Linked DNA regions of Homo sapiens: region 2 is linked to region 1. Evidence: fine-mapped expression QTL. A gene starts in region 1. The other region holds a variant in brackets. All regions are shown on one strand. Distances are from middle to middle.

Region 1 (4,242 bases):
AGGGAGGAAGGAAAGGAATGAAAAACCAAACGGTGGTTCTCCAGGGGACTGGCCCAGGAGTAACTGGAGGGCACACTCAGGTACCCAGTGACCAACCACTATAGGGCTGGGTCTCTGCCCCTACCTGCCGTCCTGCAGATTTGAAACAGGGCCACTGTCCACCCACCTAGTGGCCCCTCTGCCTATGACCTCCCTGCCCCCCAACCTGTGATTTCACACTTCAGGGAAGGAAGAGGAAAGGGTGGAAGAGGAAGACAGTCCTGCCAGCATGTGTCCAGCAGAGGGGACACTAGGAGAACCTAACTGAACACAAGGCCAGGGTACTGCCTCTGTCCACTCGCGCTTAACTTGCCCGCTCTGTGATGGAGTGCTTGGATACAGGCTGCTCACAAATGCTGGGCTGCTTCTTTGACTTGCCATGGAACTTTCCAGACAACTGCCCCAGGGAGATGGTGTGTGTGATGTGTGAGGGGTGCTCACACTGCAACCAGGCCCTTGTCTGGGCTTTGGTACCTCTCCCGCTCCCCACTGCTCACCGGCCGCTCGGCTCTGAGGCCCGTGAGGACACTCTCCATCATGCTCTTCACATAACACAGACTCCCAGGTTCACACACACTGTGTTCCTGCATCAAACCGTTTCTTCCCCAAATGCCAATGACCTTCCCTTGGGCAGAACGGCCCCGCACACAAAGGGAATGTGTTGTGTTATGAAGAGGCACAGGCCCCGACCCTGGTCACCCAAAGGGGTCCCAGAAACCGCTCTGTAACAAGATAAGGTGGAGCGCTACTGCTCCCACTTTCCTGCGCTCCCAGTCCGTAGGTCCAGGACCTCCTCGGTGGTGTTGATGGAAATGATGGGAGTCACAGCAGGGGCTTTCCAATGCTTTTCATGGAGACCAGCAGTAAGAAATGCACTTTACGTCACAGCCCAGCACACGTGTATGTCATGTGTGCACATGTGTTGTGCATGTGTGTACATGTGTAGAGCGACAGCAGCCAATCAGAGCTAACTCTATTCTGCGATGGACGCACTGACAACTCCTGTTCTGTTGTGTTTTGAAGAACTAACTGGTGCATGGCGGCTCTGGCCTGTGATCCTAGCACTTTGGGAGGCCAGGAGTTTTTGACTGGTTTTGGCAACACAGCCAGACCTGGTCTCTACAAAAAATATTTTTCTGCCGGGCAGATCACCCCATCAGGAGTTCAAGACCAGCCTGGCCAACGTGATGAAACCCAGTCTCTAAAAAAGATACAAAAATTAGCTGGGTGCAGTGGTGTGCGCCTGTACTCCCAGCAACTCGGGAGACTGAGGCAGGAAAATCCCTTAAGCCCAGAAGCGGAGGTTGCAGTGAACCGAGATCGCGCCACTGCACTCCAGCCTGGGTGACAGCGTGAGACTCTGTCTCAAAAAAAAAAAAAAATTCTTAGCTGAGTGCGCTGGCGCACACCTGTAGTCCCAAGTAGCTAGGAGGCTAAGAGATTACTAGAGCCCAGGAAGTCGAGGCGGACGGGCGGGCGGGTCACCCTCCAGTTTGGACAGTCAGCAATGGAAGCTTCAAGGGTTGGGGCTGAACCAAGGGTGGGTGGGATCGCGTCTGATGCGCCCACCCTTCACGGGGACCGCGTGCCCCTCACTGGGAGGGCAGCCCGCCTGGAGCCCTACTGCCTCTGCTCCCTCTGGGGGTCCTGGGGACCCGATGGCCACCACTCTGCCACACGAGCCGCGCGCTCACACACTCCTCACCCGCCGGCCACATCCCTTGTCTGCGCACTCAGGCCCCTTCCACCCAGCGCGCCTAGCTCTCAGGCTTGCTCGCCCCAGCGCACGCGCTCCACCTCCCACTCGCGGTCCCCCCGACACGCGCCCCCGTCCACACTCGCCCTCCACCCCCGCTCTCGCTCACCCTCGCTCTCATAGCAACCCTCTCTCACCCTCGTCCTCACACCCTCTCACACGCCCCCTCACACACTTGCTCTCTCTCACGCACCCGCCCGGCGTCGCCCGCGACCCCACGCCCGTCCTCCCGGGGCCGAGCCTCGCTGCCCGGCGCGCCCACTTTGCGGGAGGGAAACTGAGGCCGTGCAAGGAGGAGGAGCAGGGGCCGGCCGCCGCGGGGCTCACCTGCATGTCAGGGAGGCCGGACGGCCACAAACGCACGGCCGGAAAACGCTCCAGCGCGCCGGAAGTCCCGCCCCAGGCGCCCGCGCGCCGCCGCCGCGCACGGCACGCTGGGATGGAGAGGGGCTGGGCCAGGACAGGGGACTGGGCAGGGCTGCCCGAAAGTCGGGGCCGGGGCCGGGGCCGGGGCCGGGGCGGGGCCGCGCCGGGGGCGGACCCCGGGCCCGGCGCGTTCACCTTGAGCGCCCCTGGTGCTCGCGCTGGAGCTGGTTATCAGGTTCCCGGCCCAGGGGTAGCCGGGTTCCCAGCGCCACGGCTCTTAGGCAGGCCTGGCGCCCTTGGCGTGGGGCCGCGCGGGGCCTTGGGCTCCAGGGCCTCTGCCCGGCTCGGCGGTGCCGGGAGAACCGCGCGGTGGGCTCCGCCCCGGCACGCTCCCCCGGGGACCCGGAGTCACCACTCCTGGCGTCCCCCCGACCCCCGCCTGAGTGGACCATCTCCATCCCCAGGCCGATGGCGCCCACTGCGCTGTCTCCAGCGGGGACTGCCCGAAACGCGCGCTCTCTCGGTCCGCACCCCCGCCTTGCACATTGCACGAGCCGGAGCCCCAGGAGGCAAACCAAGTTCCCAACTCAGCCCCTCGCGCTTGGATGAACGAGCGCGTGGCCAGCACTTTTGAGTCACCGCGCATTCTACGCGGCACAGGCTGTCCGACCCCCACCCCCAGCCCTAGCCGTTCCCAGCGCAGTTTCCTACAGAAAACCGCACGGCCGGGCCCCACCCTGCCCCGCTCAGCCGTTCCCGGGGCGCGCGTGGGCTCCAAGACACCCTGCACAGCTGCTTCTCCATTTCTGCTGCTTGGGAGCTTTCTCCTTAAACTAAGCTTTGTCTTTCTTTCTAGTCACGTTTCCTTCTTTCCCTTCCCGGTATTTTCTGCCAGCTGACGCCCACGCCTTTCCTAGAAGGGGCTGGGGGCTGCATGCGGTGCGAGGCACGTCCCCCACCAGCTGTGGGCTCTTACTCAGCTTAGCACTCGCTCTCAGCAAACGGCCTGGATGGTGGCCTGAAGCCTGACCTTTGGGGGTGAAGACCTCAAGTCGGCAGAGCTCTGGAGAGGGTCCCAGTAAGCTATGGCAGGTGTCCTCAGGGACATATGCGCAGTCCTCCCAATGCTAAGGAGGCCATGGCAACATCCAACTTCTCTTAGGAAAGGCACTTAGCCATTTTAGGATCTCATTGAGGTCAGAGGTCTTTGGCGCTAAAGAATTGCAGAATCGATCGGGCAGCCGCCGCCTTTAATCCTAGCACTTTGGGAGGCCAAGGCGGGTAGATCACTTGAGGTCAGGCGTTCGACACCAGCCTGGCCAACATGGTGGAACCCTGTCTCTACTAAAAATACAGAAATTAGGCGTGGTGGCGCATGCCTGTAATCCCAGCTCCTGGGGAGGCTGGGGCAGGAGAATTACTTGAACCTGGGAGGCTGAAGTTGCAGTGAGCAGAGATCACACTGCACTCCAGCCTGGGTGATAAAGTAAGACTCGGTCTCAAAAAAACAAAAAAAAGAATTGCAGAATCTACTTAGGGTTCACTCTGGGCCAGAACTACAGACCTCAAGAGCAGATGGGGCCCGCAGATGGGAGGATAGGAAGCCCAGAGCCAGGCCCCTCTGCAGAGCTCCCAACGGCCGGGTTCCTGGGGGAGTCTTGTCAGTTGCCAGCACAAAGCGGTCCGCTTCCCAATCTGCATAGTTTGTGCCAATGGGCCCCGTGTACCTGCATTGAAAACTGACTTCTTGGCTGGGCGCGGTGGCTCACGCTTGTAATCCCAGCACTTTGGGAGGCTGAGGCGGGCGGATCACAAGGTCAGGAGATCGAGACCATCCTGATTAACACGGTGAAACCCCGTCTCTACTAAAAATACGAAAAATTAGCCGGGCGTAGTGGCGGGCGCCCGTAGTCCCAGCTACTTGGGAGGCTGAGACAGGAGAATGGCGTGAACCCAGGAGGCGGAGCTTGCAGTGAGCCAAGCCATTGCACTCCAGCCTGGGCGACAGAGTGAGACTCTGCCTCAAAAAAAAAAAAAAGAAAAAGAAAAAGAAAACTGACTTCTTTAGGTGGGCACCCACC
Region 2 (4,242 bases), 28 kb before region 1:
AAGGGGACCACCACACACGACCCTGGTCTTGCAACATGGCCCACCTGCCATCTGCCATGGAGGGGCTCACGGAGGGCACCCCTGGAGGCCGGGCAGGGAACACTGCCCCAACATACTCCTCTACCCACTGCTGCCACCCTCAGGACCCGCAAATCCAGCAGGTTACCTCTGCCCCTCCCCACGGCCGACCAGGAGGAATCAGGGGTGATGGCCTGGCCTCGGCTCACCTGCCTGGGCTGACACACGCACACACCCCTCACGGAGGGCAGGCCTGTGGGGGACCTGCAAAAACTCGTAAAGACGACAGCCGAGGCCTCCACAAAAAGGACCAGGTTCTCCAGAAAAGTGAGCAGCTAAAACTGTTTCTAAGAAACTCAACTGCATCCAGAACAAAGATTAAGATGATTTATAAAAATGCTAAAACACCCAGCACGCAACATGGTAAAATTCGCAATGCCTCAGGCATCAACCCGAGAGTACCAGGCCCACAGGAAGGCAGCATAATAGGACCCCAAACAAGGAGGAAAAGCAGCCTCCTGAAACCGACCCTGATATCAGAACCAGCAGACATGGGCACTCAGCAGTTCTTACAACTGAATCCCAATCTGCAAAAGTTTAGTAGAGACATGGAAGACGTAAAGGGGACCCCAAGCAAGCCTCTAGAGAATTATAACATGTTGGCTGGGCTTGGTGGCTCACGCGTGTCATCGCAGCACTTTGGGAGGCTGAGGCAGGAGGATCGCTTGAGCCCAGGAGTTCAAGACCAGCCTGGACCACATAGTGAGACCCCCATCTCATAAAAAATAAAAAAAATTGAATTACAACACGAGGTGACAAAAGCACTGGATGAGATTAACGGTAGGCTGGGTGGTGAGGGAAAGGACCACGTCGGGCGGTAGGCTGGGTGGTGAGGGAAAGGACCACGTCGGGCGGTAGGCTGGGTGGTGAGGGAAAGGACCACGTCGGGCGGTAGGCTGGGTGGTGAGGGAAAGGACGTCGGGCGGTAGGCTGGGTGGTGAGGGAAAGGACCACGTCGGGCGGTAGGCTGGGTGGTGAGGGAAAGGACCACGTCGGGCGGTAGGTTGGGTGGTGAGGGAAAGGACCACGTCGGGCGGTAGGTTGGGTGGTGAGGGAAAGGACCACGTCGGGCGGTAGGTTGGGTGGTGAGAGAAATGACCACGTCGGGCTCAGGATGGATGGGATTAATGGCAGGTTGGGCACAGCAAGAGAAATGACCAGGCCAGGCACGGGGCTCACACCTGTCATCCCAGCACTTTGGGAGGCTGAGGCAGGAGGATCGCTTGAGCCTAGGAATTTGAGACCAGCCTCGACAACATGGCAAAACCCTGTCTCTACAAAAAAAATACAAAAATTAGCGGGGCATGGTGGCATGCACCTGTGGTCCCAGCTATTTGCGAGGCTGAGGTGGGAGGATGGCTTCAGCCCAGGAGGTTGAGGCTGCAGTGAGCTATGATCACACCAGTGCACTGCAGCCTGGACGACAGGGTGAGACCCTGTCTCAAAAAAAAAAAAAAAAAAGAAAACAGAGAAAAAAGAATCCCAGCCCGGTGTGGTGGCTCACCCCTGTAATCCCAGCACTTTGGGAGGCCAAGGTGGGCGGATCATGAGGTCAGGAGATCGAGACCATCCTGGCTAATGCGGTGAAATCCCATCTCTACTAAAGATACAAAAATTAGCAGGGCGCGGTGGCAGACGCCTGTAGTCCCAGCTACTTGGGAGGCTGAGGCAGGAGAATGGCGTGAACCCGGGAGGCAGAGCTTGCAGTGAGCCAAGATTGCGCCACTGCACTCCAGCCTGGGCGACAGAGCGAGACTCCGTCTCAACAAAAAAAGAATTCCAAAAGGTAAAAGGTGTATTCGTGAGCTGTGGGACAAATTCAATGGATCTAGTGTTTGTGGTCTC[C/T]AAACGAGAAGACAGAAGAGAAGAAACAGAAAAAATATTTGAAGAATTTGGCCTCAAATTTTCCAAGTTTGCTAAGAGTACGAATGCAGACTCAAGAGGCTCCATGAACACTGTGCAAAAGGAAAATGAAGACACGTCAATAAAATTGTTCAAAACCAGCCATAAATACAAGATATTCCTACGAGCAGGGAGGACAGCAACACAGGCAGGAGAAAGAGGTGGCGGTGAAACGCTGTCCGAATGAGAGGGCGGCCACATGCTTAAGGTGCCAGTGAAAAAACCGACAGCCAGAATTCTACAGCCAGGAAAGATGTCCTCCAGAAATAAAGTAAAGTAATGCCAACAAGAAACCACACTCGCAGAGCATACCAAGAACACACAAAGCAGGAAATTACTCCCGGGCAGAGGAGAGGAGGAGGAGCATTCAACCCAGGAGGCCCCGGCCCGGCCTGTATGCTGTGGGGCAAGGCTGACGGGTGGGGGAAGCCTCAGTCCCAGCCTCACGCAGATGTGGGGACAGCCTCACGCAGATGTGTGGCCGTGTTATGGGTGGTGACCACAGTGGGGGCTGCGGTGGGGTGGGCACCAAGCAGGACCGGCTCCTGGCCCAGCCCCTATCTCTGACTCTGTGGGGCAGAAGCCCCAGGGGACCGAGACCCTCCCCATCACTCTGTCTCCTTACACCCACACCCACCCGCGCCCAGTGACACCTTCAGCACGGCAGGGAGAGCCCTTGGCTCACCTGGCCCCGACAACAGGCTCACGGGCATCCTTGGAGGTCGCGTAGTCCATACCATAGAAGTTGAGCCCCAGGAGGATTTTGCTTCGCCACTTGGACTTCGGGTCCAGGACCTGGACGCAGGCTCGAACCCAGGACAGGGGTGCATTAGGGCCAGGCCTGCAGGGCAAGGGGTGAGCGAGTTTCAGCAACAGGGAGGGCCCCGCACCTGAGCCATCATTGGGGCCCTCCACTGAGGGGTGCATCCTCCCCATGCTGCGGCTGACACCTCTAGAGAGTTGTAAAGAACAGAAGTCACCCATCAGAAAGGGCTGTCAGCAGAGCGGGCCCATGAGGGACGTCACGTCCAGGGCCAGGATCACCCATCAGAAAGGGCTGTCAGCAGAGTGGCCCCATGAGGCATGTCCAGGGCCAGGATCACCCATCAGAAAGGGCTGTCAGCAGAGCGGGCCCATGAGGGACAACACACCCAGGGCCAGGCACTCATGTGCGGCCCCCACCCCACAGCCACAGGCAGGAGTCCGCATGACACAGTGGGAAGGAGGTCAGCAGACACAAGGCCTTCTGGGCATCCTTCCTGAGGTCTCCCTGCCTGCGCCTGTGTCACACGGCCCTCCCACAACAGTGTGGCTCAGGCGAAAGAGGACAGGGCGGCATCGGGCAGCAGCAGGACTATGCCTGTACCTCTGGCCGTGACCCAGCTCCACCAGAGGCAGGGCCCCACCCACGTGACCACCACAGGGCATGGGGCAGGTGCAGTCCCACTGGCTTCCCTCAGGTGGGTGTCCAGACTCAGCAGGTGACCTTGTGCACAGAACCACAGGCAAGAGGGCATCAGCTGTGCCCAGGAGCCCCCCAGGTCCACACTCACTGCTGCACTGTGGAGTTTGCTGTGCCCAGGAGCCCCCCAAGCCCACACTCACTGATGCGCTGTAGAGTAGTCGTAGGTCATGAGGCTGAAACCATCCAGCACGGGGGCCAGCTGCTCAAACTCCTTGTGCGTGAACATGCCCAGCTGGTCGGTCCTGTAACAGACAGGTGCAGCCACCTCAGGCTGCTATGCCCTGCCTGAAGCCCCTCCCCAGCTGCGGTTCGAGCAAGCTGCCTGTAGGGGACTTGGGTCACTTTTCCCAAGGGGAAAAGTGTTCTTCTGGGGTGGGGACAGCCTGCAGCTTGGTTGGGGCCACAGAGGCTGGGGGCTGGGAGACACAGGGGGATGTGGTCATCGGGGCCCAGAGGCCTCTCTGAGACCAGGGTACAGCTGAGAATGACAGACCTAATGGCGGGGAGACCTGGGCCAGGGCTGCCCATGGAGGGGCAAGGTCAGTGGAGAGTGGCCAAGAGGATGGGCCACTCCCAAGAGCTGGGGTTGCTGAGATGGAGGTGACTGATCCAGGCTCCCAGGAGCGTCCCCTCCCGGGGTCTGCAGCAAAGCCTCCCTGAAGGCAGAAGCAGCTCCTGGGATGCAGCCCTCAAGCCCACTCAGGGTCGGCCTGGCCCAGCCAGGCTGTCCAAAGCCCTCACTGGACCTCAGCAGGTAGACGGGAAGGACAAGTGCTTGGCTCCCAGGGATGGAGCAA

Alleles and levels. Alleles are on the strand shown, and positions count from the first base shown. SD is a standard deviation of normalised expression in the study named.
As copies of T replace C in region 2, the expression in skeletal muscle of the gene that starts at base 2,158 in region 1 goes up (small effect, 0.30 SD a copy in GTEx).

The links. PIP is the estimated chance that this variant, and not a neighbour inherited with it, causes the effect.
Region 2: its variant is fine-mapped to the expression of CHID1 in skeletal muscle (GTEx, PIP 0.92).

What each region holds. Positions count from the first base shown.
Region 1 is chr11:908,653-912,894 of GRCh38, forward strand. It overlaps CHID1 (chitinase domain containing 1), which reads right to left and starts at 2,158. Exons shown (of 13, transcript NM_023947.4): 1 at 2,123-2,158. RefSeq lists a silencer at 1,841-2,680.
Region 2 is chr11:880,483-884,724 of GRCh38, forward strand. It overlaps CHID1 (chitinase domain containing 1), which reads right to left. Exons shown (of 13, transcript NM_023947.4): 9 at 3,586-3,687; 10 at 2,666-2,821. It also overlaps the pseudogene LOC124902604. Among named protein-coding and RNA genes, the nearest start is that of CHID1, 28 kb to the right of the region's middle. The variant C/T (reference allele first, on the strand shown) is at 1,924.